Linked DNA regions of Homo sapiens: region 1 is linked to region 2. The links come from fine-mapping of genetic effects on gene expression. Tissue or cell type: fibroblasts. Region 2 holds a variant in brackets; the other region holds the start of a gene. All regions are shown on one strand. Distances are between the middles of the regions.

Region 1 (8,109 bases), 120 kb before region 2:
TTTTCTCCAATCTACAACTAGCTAGCTTTATTAATTCTTCCACATTCAGAGTAGATATTAGCATATCTAAATCTCATTAAGGAGTTTATAGAACTTTCTCTAAAGGAAATAGGTAGCAAAACAACATTCAATTAGTTTGTACTCAAGTTGACAATAGAAGATGTAAATGAAACAACTAGAAAACAATCCAAGGTAGATCATGGTGCTTTTGCTCATAAATGTGTTCATTAGATAAAGAAAGAATTTTGGAAGGAAGGATCTGTTTTGTAATCAGAAAAACAAAAACTGATTTACGAATTTGAATTGAAAAGTAGGTAAAGAATTTCAGTATTTACTCACGTATTCATTCAAATATAAAAGGGAACTGATTACCACCTCCACCACAACAACCATGTGTTATACGTGTACAAGGTTAGATCAAAGTGGTAGCTAAGAATATTACATTCTGCAGTTGTTCAAGGATGACAGTTGAGAAAGTTTGATGACAGAGGATAAAAATAACACTTGTTTGGGCATAAATGGCAGGTTTTTTTTTCAATGAAATATGTGAATGTTCCTCCTTTTACCCACAACCCCAGAAACCTAAGAAAATAATTTTGCAACATTAAGTTCACCACCTCATCGAATTATAATTATTCTTATTTTCTGAAATGAAAAAATAACTATGTTGTAAACACGAGAACAAATTGAGGCAATGATAATATATTAACTAACTATTGGGTTTAATTCAATTACTAGCTTTGCTGCACAATAAATAATATGCATAACCTCTGTCCAAGTATTTTTTTCCACAGTTGTAAAACAAAGCCTTTGACAGGAGTTAGTTAACAGCAATTTAGAGCTGCCTCTAAATTGCAGAAATAAAAATGCTCACAATTTGAATGTGCTTTGTTGACAAAGAGACTATGGCCTATTTTTTTTTTTTAAGTGGAATCTTCAGCTCCCAGATTGACAGTCAGTTACAAAGAGAGGAAGGCAACTTAAAGTTTCCTCTGGAGGGTATTATCACTGCAGTCCAGTATCAGCAGTGGGTAGAAACCATGTGCTCTATCATATTTTGACCTTTATACTTCAAGTCAAGAGAATCCTGAGCAAGGTCAGTTTTTCTATCCACCCAGTGTGCACTTTGCATAGATGTAAAAAAATTTTTTTCACAGAATTTGTTCTGTGGATTTAGTTTATGTTTGAATGAAATATGTTTCTTTTTATGCTGGTGACTTTACAAGAAAACAAGGCCAGGAGAGGCATTTCCTCAAATGCCTAAAGGAGACATTACCACCATCACCACTACTTGCCAAGCGATTTATAAAGCATCTTGAGGCTCAAGGTTAGTATGGGAGATGAGCCAGGCTCAGGAGAAGTTAACACAAAGATAAAGGTTAGTGTTTTTCCCCCTTTTAGTCAGCCAATACAACAAAGTACTTAGATAATAACCCCTAGCGGTCAGGTAATGATGTATTTTCTGCAATTATCACATTTGTGTTTGTCTATTTTCTTTATGCTAGTGAGGTTTGGAATTGGAATTGAAAATCCTCTAGGGAAAAGCTATTTTTGTAATTCAGCTGGGGTGTCCTTGTCTTTGGGTTTTCCCATTGCATCAGTCCCTTAGCCTGGCAGGATAGCCATGATAGTGCTTTGTCTTTTAGATGAAATGCAGAACTAAGGACATGACTACTGGTGCTTATTAAAGATTCCTTGCTATTTTTCACAAGAGTAGGGGCGTTAGACTCTTGTCTACTGGCCAAATTCTAAATTGGGAGATTACATTCTGCTTTCCTAAATTCCCCTAGCAGAAGCAGCCATCCATGGTATCCTACTTTGCTTCCTGTGCTAAACTGTTTTGTGATGTCATTAAATGGCTCTGGTTTTTTACTCTAGAAATGATCACTTTAGTGGGGTGGGGAGTAAATCGATACCTATTGTCTGATATTATGTTCAGTCTAGTTTCAAAAAAATTAAAAGGTAGCCTGTGGTAGTTAAGGACAAAGTACAAAACAAAACACCCTAACGTACAAAACACCCTAACATACCAGTTGTTGTGGTGCTTTTTAAAAAAACCAATCTGCTTTCTCTTCTGTAACATAGACAAAATATTAATGCATTTTTTTACTCCACTAGTAATTGACAAAGAATTGTTATTTGTTTCATACTTAAGGTTAATTCTAACAGTGATGAAGTTTGAGAGGATGAAATTACATATCACCGACCAATTAAACTATCCCTTTTGTCTTTAGGCTGCATCTAACCATTCCAGATTTTCATCTATCTATCTCATAAAATCTTTTTGGAAGGAGATTTTTCATCTTTCCTTGGTAACATATTTCAGTGTCTCTCAATCTTTCCATAAAAACTAAGTTCTTATTTCTGTTTAACCTCGGTTCCACCTGCTGGAGTGTAATGTCACTATCTTTTGTCCATCCTTAGCCTTGTTATCATATATTGTTAGTGAGAGGCAATGTAGTATAATGGCATGGTTTTTGGAATCAGACATGCCAGCATTCCAATCCTAGCTCTGTTACTTTCTAGGTGTGTGATGTTGGGCAAATTACTTCTGAGGTTTAATAGCCTCATCTGTTAATGAGTAACCTCAGAGCATTGTTGTGAAGATAAAACGAGATAGTATCTTATTCTGAAGGATTATGGGGTAGGACGAGGTATGGTATTGGAGACCTAAAAAGTGTTCAATACATACTATAATAGCTATTTATCTGATTATGTGCATGTATCTGACTTAATTCATAAACTCTTTTAGAGCGGGAGGCATACTTCCTGAGTACGCCCTGGATTTCAACAGAAGTATAGTGTTGTGCACATAGTATGGTGCAGAGGCTCAATATTACTGAATGAATAAATTGTTTTGTTTTTATTCCCTGAGTGGAATGAACAGCCCCCAGCTATCTGCAAGATCCCACGCATGTAGAAAAAAGGTGACAAAAATCAATCTGCAGTTTTTAAATATGCAGATACCTGACTTTATCTAGATGTTTTAGCATGGTGTAGATACAATGCAAATAACTTACGCTTTCTATTTCTATCACGTTCATTTCTACGAATTTTAACATTTGATTATTGTCATTATTTTTATTATTAAGCTGCACTTAGGCACCCAGAAAGGGACTGACTCATATGTCTCCTCATCCATCCAAGCATTTAATTGAGAAATTTTAAAAATGAATATTAAGAGCTAATTATATACTTGAACAAAATCTTTCAATTTGTGACTAAGTACATTACCTTCCCTATTTATCTCTAAGATCTGAGCACTACAGATAATATTCCTAATTGCTTTGTACCCAAGCCAAGAAATAAAAACCAAAACCAGAAAAGTCCACCACTGCAAGTCCCAAAGCACAATTAGTATCTTTGAACCAGTGAAGTATTAGTTAGGACTTTATTTTTGGCTTTTAAATGTTTAAACGGGGCAAGGAGGGTAAGTTGGGGGAACAAGTACAAGATACATAGATTCAGTCGGACTTGAATATTTCTCCATAAGGAAAGGAAAGAGTACCCTGGTGTGTGCTTAGGCTGGAATTAAAAAGACAGCAGCGTGGCCATTTCCTGGATTGCTTTGTACACACTTTACAGGGGCGGTCTCAGGTATGGAGCTCTGGGCACCTGCTCGCTCACACTCCAACAGTTCAGAAACCCGTGTATTTGAGGCCGGGTGGCTCAGGTTCCACGTAACTGGGCTTAAGTGTCATTAATACTGCTTGCGGCGGGGGGTTACTGAGCTGTGCTTTGGGACCTGGATGCTTACTTCGGACTTTCTCCTTTCTTCCCCCCTACCCCCACTAGTTTCCCTTTCCCTCCTTCCTTCCCGGGCGTGCCCACCTTCTCCCTTTGCTCCCACTTTCCGCTGTCTGACTCTTGTTTCCTTCACCTTCCTTTCTAATCGGCTTCCTGTCTTCCAACCTCTGCCGGCCGGAGAGATTGAGATTGGGGCTGGGGCTGGGGCTGCGGCTCAGAAGAGGCACGAGTCGGGCGGGACAGGCGCGAGGCGCCCAGCCGCGAAAGCGAGGAGCGCGCACCGAGGCGGGGGCGCGCGCGGGGCAGCCGCGTGGCTAGGCAGACGGGGCCGGGAGCGGCGCGCGCGCGCCCCGCCAGCCTCTGGCGCGCCCCCGGCGGCCTGAGCCGCAGCGTGCTCGCCCCCGCCGCCAGCTCGCCTCACTTATGGGTCGGAAACGCTGCGTGGGGGAGACTGTTCCAAGATGGCGGCGGGTTGCTGCGGGGTGAAGAAGCAGAAACTGTCCAGTTCGCCCCCCTCTGGCTCGGGTGGCGGTGGTGGCGCCTCCTCCTCCTCCCACTGCAGCGGAGAGAGCCAGTGCCGAGCTGGGGAGCTGGGACTAGGAGGCGCCGGTACGCGGCTCAACGGGCTGGGAGGTCTAACCGGAGGAGGTAGCGGCAGCGGCTGTACCCTCTCTCCCCCCCAGGGCTGCGGCGGCGGCGGCGGGGGGATCGCCCTGTCGCCACCTCCGAGCTGCGGAGTGGGGACCCTACTTTCTACCCCGGCCGCCGCCACCTCTTCCTCACCCTCCTCATCGTCCGCCGCCTCGTCCTCATCGCCGGGCTCCCGGAAGATGGTGGTGTCAGCAGAGATGTGCTGCTTTTGCTTCGATGTGCTCTACTGTCACCTGTATGGATACCAGCAGCCCCGGACCCCCCGATTCACCAACGAGCCCTAGTGAGTACCGTGCCCTCCGCCGCCCTCTCCCTTGCGCTCGGGATGGGGCTCAGAGTTGAGGCAAAGTGCGAGTCCGCCTCCCGGCCGGCGGATGCCCCTGCCCTCTCGCTGCCCGGGTCCCCGGAGCTACTCAACTGAACTAAGGGCACCCTGCGCTTTTTGCCCTCCGAGGCAGGCACCCCACACTTGGAGCAGGGTGCTGCTGCAAGGAATGGCCCCGTGGCTCCTAGAGGTGTTAGCTTTCTCTTTGCGATGACTTCGAGGAGTTTTGACTCCTTTACTTGTCTCCTTCACCACCCCCACCACCCCTCACCCTGCCCCGGTTTTGGAGATCTGGGTTACTCAAGGTGTTGACCTCTCCTCACTTTGGTTTCCATTACCCCAAGTGAAAGCCCCGCCAGTATTCCCGCCCCGCGTATCTTGCACATGGAGAACTACTATCCCATTGCAGGATGAAAAATAGCAACTATCCAACTTCTGTTAGTGATGGAACTTAGCTCTGGAGCTTGTGAGGTTACCCATCTTCTCCTCTGGGTTTTCTTGTGCCCTGGGAAGGGGGGAGGTTTCTTAAAACACATTTTTCCCTTACTACTTATTTTTATCCAAATACACCCATTAAAATGTGTTTCTCGTGTAGCGAGCGCACTGCCGGCTTCCTCACATTTGAAGAGTGCGACCTTTTTTTTTTTTTTTTCCATTCCACCGTCTGGATAATAGCTCATTCAAAGAGAACTGTCCCCACAGAGCCACGGTCAGTTTGTACATTAAGCGTGCATTCGCTTTTGTGTCGATTTCACTTTTTAAGAAATCCATGTTATACTTGATGATTTGAGAACAGTTAAATAGTAAATGTGTAGGAATTGTTATGGTTTCCTTTGGTTTTGTATCTTAAATTATTTTACCCTTCAAGTGTGTGGTTGAAAAATTTTAAAATAGCACTGTTACAGCTAAAAGCCAGGTTAATTCTAATCCCTGTCCATTTGGATGTGTGGGAGGTGGGGCATATGGTTTTTTTTTTTTAATGTGTAAACTGAATGTAAACTGACTTTTTGCGTTAAATGCTAGACAGAATGTAAAGACCAAGAGAGGGCAGAATGAGAAAAAGTGCAATTGCTTTTATTTGAGTACTTAGCATCAACAAGAAAAATAATACAGAAAAAATTTCAGTGAAACTCGTACTGAAAGGCATCAGCCCCTTTTCCAGCTAAGACAAGTGCCCCTTGTCCCCCATATCATAAATACCTGAATTGATGTTCTTTTAAAACTGCTCCTTTTCATTTTGTGAGATTAGAGGATTGGACTACTGTTGTATAAGTATAAACATTTCTGCCTAGACTAAAATATTAAATTAATATGTAAAGTGGAAATTACAATAAAGTGTCCTGGAAATTGTGCATTTGTACTGTTTGTTTTCTTTGGCTTTCATTCTTTAAATGTCTTTAATTTTGTATGACTCTTCTGTGGTCTGTGCATTTTCTTTTAGACTTGGTTAATCTTTGGGCATTGGTTTATGAGAAGTGCATGAAAGAGCATCCAGGAGAACACTTCGTCAAATAAATATCTTTATAAATTTCATAGTGTTAATTCTAGAAGCTTAAATCCTAAGTCCACACTTTTATTTAGCCAATTCATTTTTTTGGTTAAGAAGTAAAATTCATTTTGAAAAGACTGCCATGTAAAATAAATCTATGAAATATTTATTAGCTTGAGTCACTTATTTGTGACTTTTATGCCTTCTCTTGGATGTCTGTGATGTATTAAAGCTAGTCCTGGGATGATACTTAGGTTGGCTCTGCAAAGTCATGGGACTGCAAAAATTCACTCCTGTTTAGTTCTTGAGCTGTTAACATGAGTTTGGCAAAGGCTGCTTTAGTATTCACGCTCCATTGCTCCAAAGCATATGAGAACACACTTTCAGGAGGTGCTATTTTCACACATTTTACAGTGAGTTTGGGTTAACTCAATGACTATAACAAGAATTTTAAAAGGAAAGTGAGCTTGACCAGTTCATACAGAAAATGCTTTTGAAAATATCATTTTAACAGTAGCCACTTTGCACACGTATTTAGATATTATTCTATTCAAACACCCCAGCCCCTGGATTTCTTTTTCATGGAATTAAGCAGATGATAGGACACACTTTGACCACTGTGGATATGTTGAAACGGTGGTGGAAGAATAATAACTATTATCATCTAGCAGACCTTGAATGTGTCATGTATTCTATAAAACAACTAATGTAGAGTAGACACTAAACATGACCAAGTGGAGAATGAAAGTTCACTTAAGTGGAAAATGGACTGTCTTATTTCCATTTATCTTCAACTCATTTTTGAGGTGTACTGTGGAAAATTCAGGAAAACTTCCTGATTATGGGAGGGACATAACTAAGCATTTCAACAGTGCCTTAGTAACTACCACACATTTGTCTTTCTGTTTTACATATTTAACAGCATTGTGTACTTATTAGTGTTGCTTTATCCTAAGTGCCATAAGACATAAACAGACATATTGGGATTTTTTTTTCTCATAGTTATTATCATGTCATGAGCAGTGTGTTTCAGGTCATGTCTCTGCCCACCAGATGTTGTGCTTTTGACAGTTTTAACTTCTCATACGTAAACGCACACTCTTTTCATCCTTTCCCAGGACTTTTCTCTCAGAATGTCTGTAACTGGTGAAATCCTCGTTTTATGGGTTTAGAAGCTGTAGATCCATCAGTTAGTTATCCTTCCACTCAGTATTGAGGGGATGTCAATATATGAACAAGCTGTATGGATACAAATTCTTCACTGTTGCCCCCATGTTTTGATTACCTACCCAATTGCAGAAAGCATTGTACAGGCAAGTTTGTGCACAGAAATCTGGTTAAAGACATGAGGAAAACTTAACTTTACTGCATTTTGATATTCAAAATCAGCACTCTTGGATTTATGTAGGGAGCCCAGATAGCTATTTTATAGGAACCTGTTTGCTACTATAAAGGGATCCACTGTGCCAGGTGTTGAGCTAGTTAGACTCCAGAGCAGTCATTCTTAACTTTGGCTGCACATTGGAATCACTGGGAAGTTATTAAAAATATGGATGCCTGAGCCCCAACTCCAGAGATTCTAATTTAATTGGACTTGAATGGGGTCTTGGATGGGGCCTGGGAATCAGGATTAGTAAAAGCTCACCAGGTGAGTTTAATGTGCAGCCAAGGTGGCGAACCACTGGTTATAGTCTACTGAATCTTTCTCTTGAGATTTGGATAATTTGGGCTAGGGTAGTGCCTTGGAATCTGAATTTTATGAGCACCCTAAATTTCAGTAAACAACCGATTTGAGAAACTCTTGCATTGTGGTCTGCAGAAGACATCACCTGGGAAATCATTACAAATATAGGCTCTCAGGCCCCGCCTCAGACCTGCTGAATTAGAGTCTGCAGTT
Region 2 (8,109 bases):
TGGCATTTGTTAAGATCCTGTTTTATTATTTTAGATCGTTGATTTTTTTTTTGCAGCATATATAATTTTGGGTTTTTTTTTCCTTATAATATTATGTAGAATTTTGCTTTGCTGTCTCAGTCAGGTTTCTGTTTTTCTGTCCTCCTTGCCTTTCTTCCCGTTTTGCTTCCTGTTTTCCTTCTTCCTTCCCGTTTTCCTTCTTCCTTCCCTGCCTCCCTTCCTTTGACTGTGGATGGAAGAAAGTGTGCAGTTTTTAGGGATTTTACTTAGGTTCGTCTTTAGTTTTCCTCAGTAAGATAGTTGTTTTTTGATACCTGAGTTTGGGATTAATTCATATCAAATTCAGGTATTTGTATATTACTCTTGATTTTTGTCTGAAATTCACTTTGCTATGACAGCCTAGTAGTTGGGTCTTCACTCCTTAAGTATATGTTTTTCCCATGGTGAAAATACATGAACTTTAGTTCTAGTAGTGAGCATTCAAAGGTCCGTGATAGGGCTTGTCACAGAGAGAGAGAAATCATTTATCCCTATTGTGCTGGTTATCATAGAAGAGACTGCCTCACCACTTTATAGAACCAATTTGCAAACTAAAACACTGTTTGGAGAAGGTACAAACTACCTTTCAAAAAGGCTACAGGAAACATTTTATGAGCAGCAAATATTAGGAAGAGAGCAGATACAGAATTTAGTGCCTTTGAGAAGAATATAATTAAGTGGAATTAAGAGGGGTTAGAAAAAAGGCAATTTAGAAAAATATTCTTGTAAAACTTTATTGTTTCTATATGTGAAACAGAAGATTAGACAAATTCCTTACTCTTAAGTATTTTTTTAAGCTGAAAAAAAATTATTTTGAGCAAATAACCAATAAGAGACATTTGTCTATTTTATATTAATTTAAATTTGTTAGCTCTAGGTTTCAATAAGTCATGATTGGCTAGAATCCATTTTAGCTACCATCTAAAGATATGGTAAAGATAATTTAGTAAAACAAAAGTTCATATTTGCCATGATTTCAGATATGTTTGTCATGGGGACAATATTAGAGTTTTAGAGATACTATAAAATAGCTTGAATTTCTTTCTGCACTACATACTTTTGATAGAAACACATTTACTACATTGATAAGATGTTATGTCACACCTGTGAAAATGGAGTTGGCATTCAGATATGCTATAGTTAGAGCCCAGCTCATCTGCAAGTATAGTCTTCCCATGATGCATACAAAGATAACTTACTGATGTCGATAGGAGGTCCATACATATATCCCCAGGAAAAATGACAGATTATTCTGGAGGAAGATGACCTTCATTTTATGGTTATGTGTGTGTGTCTGTGTGTCTTTGGAAAAATATATATAATTTTTTCAAATAGGAAGCCAACATATCAAGTGATGAATTAAAGTATGCTGCAGAATATATATTCTAAAACTACAAAAAAGTCACTGAATATCAAAATGATACAGCTTATACATATAGTTACTGTGACAAGTGACAGACTGCTAGTTCAGAATTCAAAAATCCTTTCCTAGTTTGTGAGATAATGGGCTAAATTCCTTCTGCCTGCCACTGGGGCAAAGCAAATTGCTTTAGTTTTTGATGAGAGTTCTTAGAAGTTTGTTGGTATTCCTTCATCCACAGCATCCATTGTTGAAATAACCATTTTCAGTTGTGATGCCTTAACTAAGAAGCCAATTGTTAGCCTGAAATGCAATCTTGGTAGCCAGTTTCAATGAAGCTAGAGATTAGTCAGAAAAAGTTAGCTGTTGGGCTTTAGAAAGGGATTTTGAGTCCTGTCATTTCTACTTGGGAGCATTTTGGAGCAGATTAGTCTTTCAGTATAAAAACAAGTGGCTACCTGATGGAAACTTTTCTTACCCTTATAGGGAAACTGAGCACAAGCTGAATGATATTGTCTGCTGCAAAAAAAAACAAACAAAAAAAAAACAAAACAAAAAACAAAAAAAAGGAAAAAAAGGTAAATAAAACAAGCAAACTGAAGAGAGACAAAATAGACCAATATTATCGTGAAATCCATCTTATCCATCATCTCATCGGTTCAACAGGCTCCTCGTCCTGGGTGAGCTTATGGTTAGAAGTTTTTTTAGCAAAGATTTATTACATACATAGATGTGTGTGTGTACATATACTTACACATACATACATACATATATGTGTGTTTATTTAACGGTGCTAATCAATCTTGAGCAGGTCACGTGACTGGTCATGCGGACTCTAAAATCATATCAGATTTTTTAAAATCCTTGATATATGCAGATGTTATACAGATTTTCTTAGCAGTGTAATAACGTTAAACTGAAGAAATAACCATCCTGCAGGCTTCAAAGGACGAGGTCAGCAATATTTCCCAACATGGCTTGGGGGAAAAGGATAGTTTTGTCTCCTTTTGTATTCAAGTAATGCAAAGTGCATTTTTGTCTCTAAGTAGCTTTTGACTAAAAGACTTTGTAGTGTAAAGGGTGTTATACAAACTGTAATGGTGTGCTTCAAACAAATGCTAGACCCTTTCACCTTTGTCGTATATACAAAGCTGTTAATTATGTGGTATGAATTAACTTTGAACATGTTGAAATATGTAGCATGTCTTTAACTCAGACGAAGATTCTGATTGCACAGGTTGTGTTCTAGCCAGTTGTGATTTATTTGTTCAGAAACACAAATGTGAATTGCACTCTTATCATCAGAATATTGTATGAGTTCAGTGATCTTTAAACAGCTCAGAAGTAATACTTGAACTTCATTTGAGTAGCACAAAGTTTACATAGCCCCTTTTAAATGTTAATTCGTTCCATTTAAGTTTTCCATTTTCAGATGCAACTGGGTATTTTTCCTCTTGGAAATAGTACGTACTTTGCTTTGGTATGTAGCAAAAGGCTTCCATTTCTGGAAGGGTTTTCTTGTTCTTAAACAAGGTCAGCCAGGTACCAGATTCTAAAAGAACAAATTGTCCCCCACCCCTCAAGTGGCCTTCTGACTGCACGAGAATGTGCTACTACCCTCTGTAGTCTCCCCTAACACGAGAGGTCAGTGAAATTGATGGAGGAAGTGCAAGGCTTGCTTCCCCTCACCCTTAAAGCTTAAAGCAGTTGTAAGATTTTCAGTCCAGCACATACAGTCCCAGTGCCCAGCACACCGGAAGTTTGTATACTGGCCTCTTATCTTGTCTTCAAATGTGCAGGAAATTTGAAACTGTCATCTGGAATAGGTTCCATCTCTTATGTGTGTTAGATCAAACCAAAGAAGCCCCCAGCCATGCCCAAATGCTGCTTCAAAAGCCTGCCTTCCAGTCCTTACAAAAACCTTGCAGGATTAAATGTGTTAACTTTTTTATTTTTGTACAGTTTCTAAGTGATTTTTGCTAGTGATGTTAAAATGAATTAAGTTTATTTGAGGGGTGTGAGCACCTCCTCCATTTAAATAAACTGGTGACTTTCCTTTTATTTTTTAAAAGTGGAAACCCGTTGTGTGCCTCTCGATTTAAGGGTTTCTGATGACATTATTCTTAAGACCAGCATTGATCCTTTATATACAAATATATGTTTTCCTTGTTTTTTATTGCTATTTCAGAAGAAAATGAACCTTTTATTTTGCTCTACCCAGTAACTGCGCTGGTACATAGACGCACTGAGCAAACAAACTTTTGTAACCACCTCTGACTACTTTTGTATATCAAAGTTGATTACTTTTGAAATATTTGGATCTAGTTTCTAAGTTATTTTAGTGTTTTATATGTTCCCCAAAATTACTTTGAATCTGTCACCAGCATAATGAGTTCTTGGTGATACAATGGTGAGACTTGTAATGAGCAAAAAGCTACCTGGAGTAGCTCCTCTTTTCCTTCTTTCTTAGTAACCTGTTTTTTGATTACCGTAAGACATCACAGATTACCTGAAACCCCTTCCAGTATAACTAGGCCCTCCTTCCTTCCACATTTAATTGCTTAATAGTTTGAAGAAACTATTGGAAATGGGCATTTTATATGACATGTATGGCTTTACAATATTAAATATGAGCAAAAAGAAAAAATATGAGAAGGTTTATGTGGGTCTGTAAGGTATGGCTGTGGAAAGATATTGTAGTAGTTTTGACACTATTGTTATTACCTTTAAAATCATTTACCCAATAAAATGTTAAAACCGAGTTATCATTTTATGTTTCTTTTTTAAGTTTAACCTCTCTCATCATAGGATCTTGGTCTCGTCGGTACTTCTTACTAAAAGGTTAACAGTTGAAGGCTCTGAAGGAATATAGTTAGGAACAGATACTGATTTATTGCCAAACTAGCACTTGGGAAACCTTACCTGCTTGTAGCCACTCCCTGCCATATGATTTGCCAATGTCATCCTTTTGTCTATCTCTGAATCCTGGCTTGCTGATATAGATTAGCCTTTATTTGGACACCCTAACCTGGCCACATTGATCCTTTAAGGATCCTTCAGATCCTTTGCCACAGAACTCAGGCAAATATCAGACTTGAATTCTGGCGGGAGCTTAGCTGTGCTTAGGTCCGCTCCAAATCAGTCAGTGGTTATTGGGCATTTCCTCTTTGTGAGCTGGTGAGGGGCAGTAGCAGTGCTATTCAGTTAAATCATCTGATATGGGGACCCCTTCTCCTACCATCAAGGCTTGCCCATTTTCTGAGTATAGGACAGAGTCTGAAAATGCTCAAGATGTGGTCACCCAGAGCTTGTACGTACTCATACACACACTAGGCATACCACACGCTTACACTTATTACCAGCTATTTTTTCCAGTTCCAGATTGGTACCCCCAACTTGGGCTTGGGGGAAACACCTGGATTGTAGGGTAGGGCAACTGGTGGTATTGACTTTCAAGGGCCAGATAAGAGCCTATGTCAAGAAAGGAATCTCTTGGGGTGCTGCCTCTGCCTACTGTTGCCTTATCCCTTTCTCTATGGAAAGGCTACCAAGGACATTGTACTTGTGTATGGAAATACCTCTGGCTCTTTCTAAAACATTTGCTGTCTCACGCACATTTCAAG[A/G]TTAGCTGCTAGTTGAATATATCCAGGACAATTTCTGTTACATTGCCCCAAAGCCCTGGTAACCATGTAAATTTTATGACACGTGCTTATGTCAATCACAGTGGCTAAAAAGTGTTCTTAGATCCTAGAGGACTATTGTGGTTTTAACCAGTGCTCCATAAAGGCAGCCATCTGCTCAGGTTTTACCTATTTTCATCATTCATGTTTAATGGGACATAAGATTTTTCAATGATTTCGACCATATTAATAGGTTCAGGTAGAATGAAGTAGTTTAATGAGCCCACAGCATTCTTTTTTACAGCATTAGTGGTTAACTCTGGTCTGGACAAATTTCAACTTCAGTAATCACACTCCACCTACCTAAATTCTTCCCAGAGTTTCAGCATTTCCACTTTAGATTTCATGCCCCTCTGGACCCTGTGTAAATAGCTTTACTGCTTCCGAGGGCAAGTATGGGCGTGTAGGATGAAGCAGTGCCCCTCTGTTGCTGGGAAATACTACCCTATCTAAGGGGTCCTATCAGTGTGAGGTAAGGAGAAGTCTGCGGTGGAGAAGTCACACCGGGATTCAGAGCTGCCAGCCAGGACAGCCAGTGAATGACTGCCCATTCAGAGAATGGCTTCTCCCACTTCCTGCAGCTTCAACCACATAAGCCAAGATAAGTATGGGTTTGGGTTGGGTAAGCTCTCATAGCTTCCCATCTGTATGCTCAAGCTTTTCACCTACAGGAGGAAGAAATGAATGGGAGGATGCAAGTGAGGAAAGCCCTGGATATACTATTTTTGGCTACTGCATTAAAAGGCCTGCCTTGACACCTGTAGCCCCATGGGACAATCTCGTGTTCAAACCTCAAACTTGTTGGAAGAACTCTTTCAAGAATTGGAGGGAATCACATTAGGTCTCAAGCACTGTTCTGAAGCCAATCTACATCCTCACCCCAAGCGCTTGGTTACAACCTTGTTTAGAAATGACCCCTTAATAAAAATTGCTGTGTATATAATGGGATATTATTCAGCCATAAATAAGATTGAAATCCTGTCATTTGCAGCAACGTGGATCAGCTTGGAGGACATTATGTTAAATAAGCCAGACACAGGAAGGTAAATACCGCATGTTCTCACTCATGTGCGAGCTAAAGAAGTTGATCTCATAGAAGTGGAGAGTAGAATAGTGGTTACTAGAAGCTGGGAAGGGTTGGGAGAGTGAAAAGGGAGAGGTTGGTTAAAGTAGGGATCCCCAACCCCCGGGCCGTGGACCAGAACTGGTCCGTGGCCTGTTAGGAACGGGGTTGCACAGCAGGAAGTGAGCAGTGGGCAAGCAAGCATTACCGCCTGAGCTCCACCTCGTGTCAGATCAGTGGTGGGACTAGATTCTCATAGGAGCATGAACCCTATTGTGAACTGCACATGTGAGGGATCTAGGTTGTGTGCTGCTTATGAGAATCTACTGCCACCCACCCCATCCGTGGAAAAACTGTCTTCCATGAAACCGGTCCCTGGTGCCAAAAAGGTTGGGGACCACTGGGTTAAAGGATAGAAAAATACAACTAGACTGGAGGAATAAGTTCTGGTGTTCTATAGCACTGTAGGGTGTCTATAGTTATGAATTTAAGATATATCTTTGTATAACTAGAAGACAGGATTTTGAATGTTCCCAACATAAAGAAATGATAAATGTCTGCAGTGACACATATGCTAATTACCCTAATTTGACCACTATACATTGTATGTATTGAAACATCACTGTGTCGCTCATAAATATGTACAATTTTGTATCAATTAAAAAATTAAAAATTACCTCTTAATGTATTATGTTTGGAAGGTACTGACTATATATATCTCAAATTGTTTAAATGGACCCACCCAGAGAGCCGGTGGAGGGTGCAGCTATACGTAAACCAACACTGACCTGCACTTACAGCTTTCCATCATGACAGATGATTACTTAATTTGACAGAGGTGAGATGTAGAGTATGCTCTCTGTCTGCAGCACACAGCTGGGCAGTGGCTGAATTACATGCCTCCGTGCTCACCAACTGCCATGGCATCTTTGAGCTCATGCTCCCATTCTAAAAGGACACATCCAAGTCACAAGGGGCGGGTAATTTGTTCCCCCTTTAGTCTCCCTCCATGGTGGGAGAAGCTCTTTGTTTTTTACTCAGAATCTTAGTTGGCACCTCGTTATGTTAAAAATCAGATTGAAAGAACTATTTCATCGCTATTAAGCACAAATGTATACAAGCTACTTATTAAGGAGAACGAGGTTGTTTTGATAACTATAAAATGTTGCAACTGGGTTGAATGAATAGTCTCAGCGGTCTATTTCTATGTTTTAGCTCTACAACAACAAGAAGGTCCTGATTTGCACGGAGATCAGATTAATTTTATGAAAGTGTGTACATATAGGTCTAAAGTGTAAAAACCCAGCACAGTCCACAGCTATCTGAAGCTTACAAGAAGTTCGGGCAGGAGAAGCATAAAACTCCTGAGGTTTGAAGACAAGTAAGTAACCTGATGGCTTCTGCTAACCCACTGGTGGTCTTCAGTTGCCATTCTGTATATAACTAACTTACCAGGTGTTGTTAAGTGTTTTTTGTTTCTGTTTTTATTATCACAGTTTCAAAATATTATGTATTTCAACACACACGTATTTTTTGAATTAAATGTTCATAGAGGGCCGGGCACAGTGGCTCACGCCTATAATCCCAGCACTTTGGGAGGCCCAGGCAGGCAAATCACCCGAGGTCTGGAGTTCGAGACCAACGTGGCCAACATGGCGAAACCCTGTCTCTACTAAAAATACAAAAATTAGTCAGGCATGGTGGCGCACGCCTATAATCCCAGCGACTCAGGAGGCCAAGGCAGGAGAATCGCTTGAACCCAGGAGGCAGAGGTTGCAGTGAGCCGAGATTGCGCTACTACACTCCAGCCTGGGCAACAGAGCAAGACTCCATCATCTCAAAAAAAAAAAAAAAAAAAGTTTATGGAAACTTGGGGCTGTTCCGACAGAACCCCAGGATCCCACAGGACAATCAAAACCACTGCTGGAGCCTCAACATGCCCAGTTATTTTGAGAGCTTTTGGGAAG

Which allele goes with the higher level. Alleles are on the strand shown, and positions count from the first base shown. SD is a standard deviation of normalised expression in the study named.
For the expression in fibroblasts of the gene that starts at base 4,195 in region 1, allele A in region 2 goes with a lower level than allele G (small effect, 0.20 SD a copy in GTEx).

Evidence for each region. PIP is the estimated chance that this variant, and not a neighbour inherited with it, causes the effect.
Region 1: it holds the start of AMMECR1, and the variant in region 2 is fine-mapped to the expression of AMMECR1 in fibroblasts (GTEx, PIP 0.98).

Annotation. Positions count from the first base shown.
Region 1 is chrX:110,314,171-110,322,279 of GRCh38, reverse strand. AMMECR1 (AMMECR nuclear protein 1) reads left to right here and starts at 4,195. Exons shown (of 6, transcript NM_015365.3): 1 at 4,195-4,681. The coding sequence starts at 4,209. LOC105373312 (a long non-coding RNA gene) reads right to left here and starts at 4,028. Exons shown (of 4, transcript XR_938504.3): 1 at 3,832-4,028. RefSeq lists silencers at 4,013-4,162, 3,895-4,229, 4,423-4,482, 4,527-4,682, 6,535-6,634 and an enhancer at 4,203-4,332.
Region 2 is chrX:110,190,237-110,198,345 of GRCh38, reverse strand. AMMECR1 (AMMECR nuclear protein 1) reads left to right here. Exons shown (of 6, transcript NM_015365.3): 6 at 1-4,160. Among named protein-coding and RNA genes, the nearest start is that of SNORD96B, 31 kb to the left of the region's middle. The variant A/G (reference allele first, on the strand shown) is at 5,023.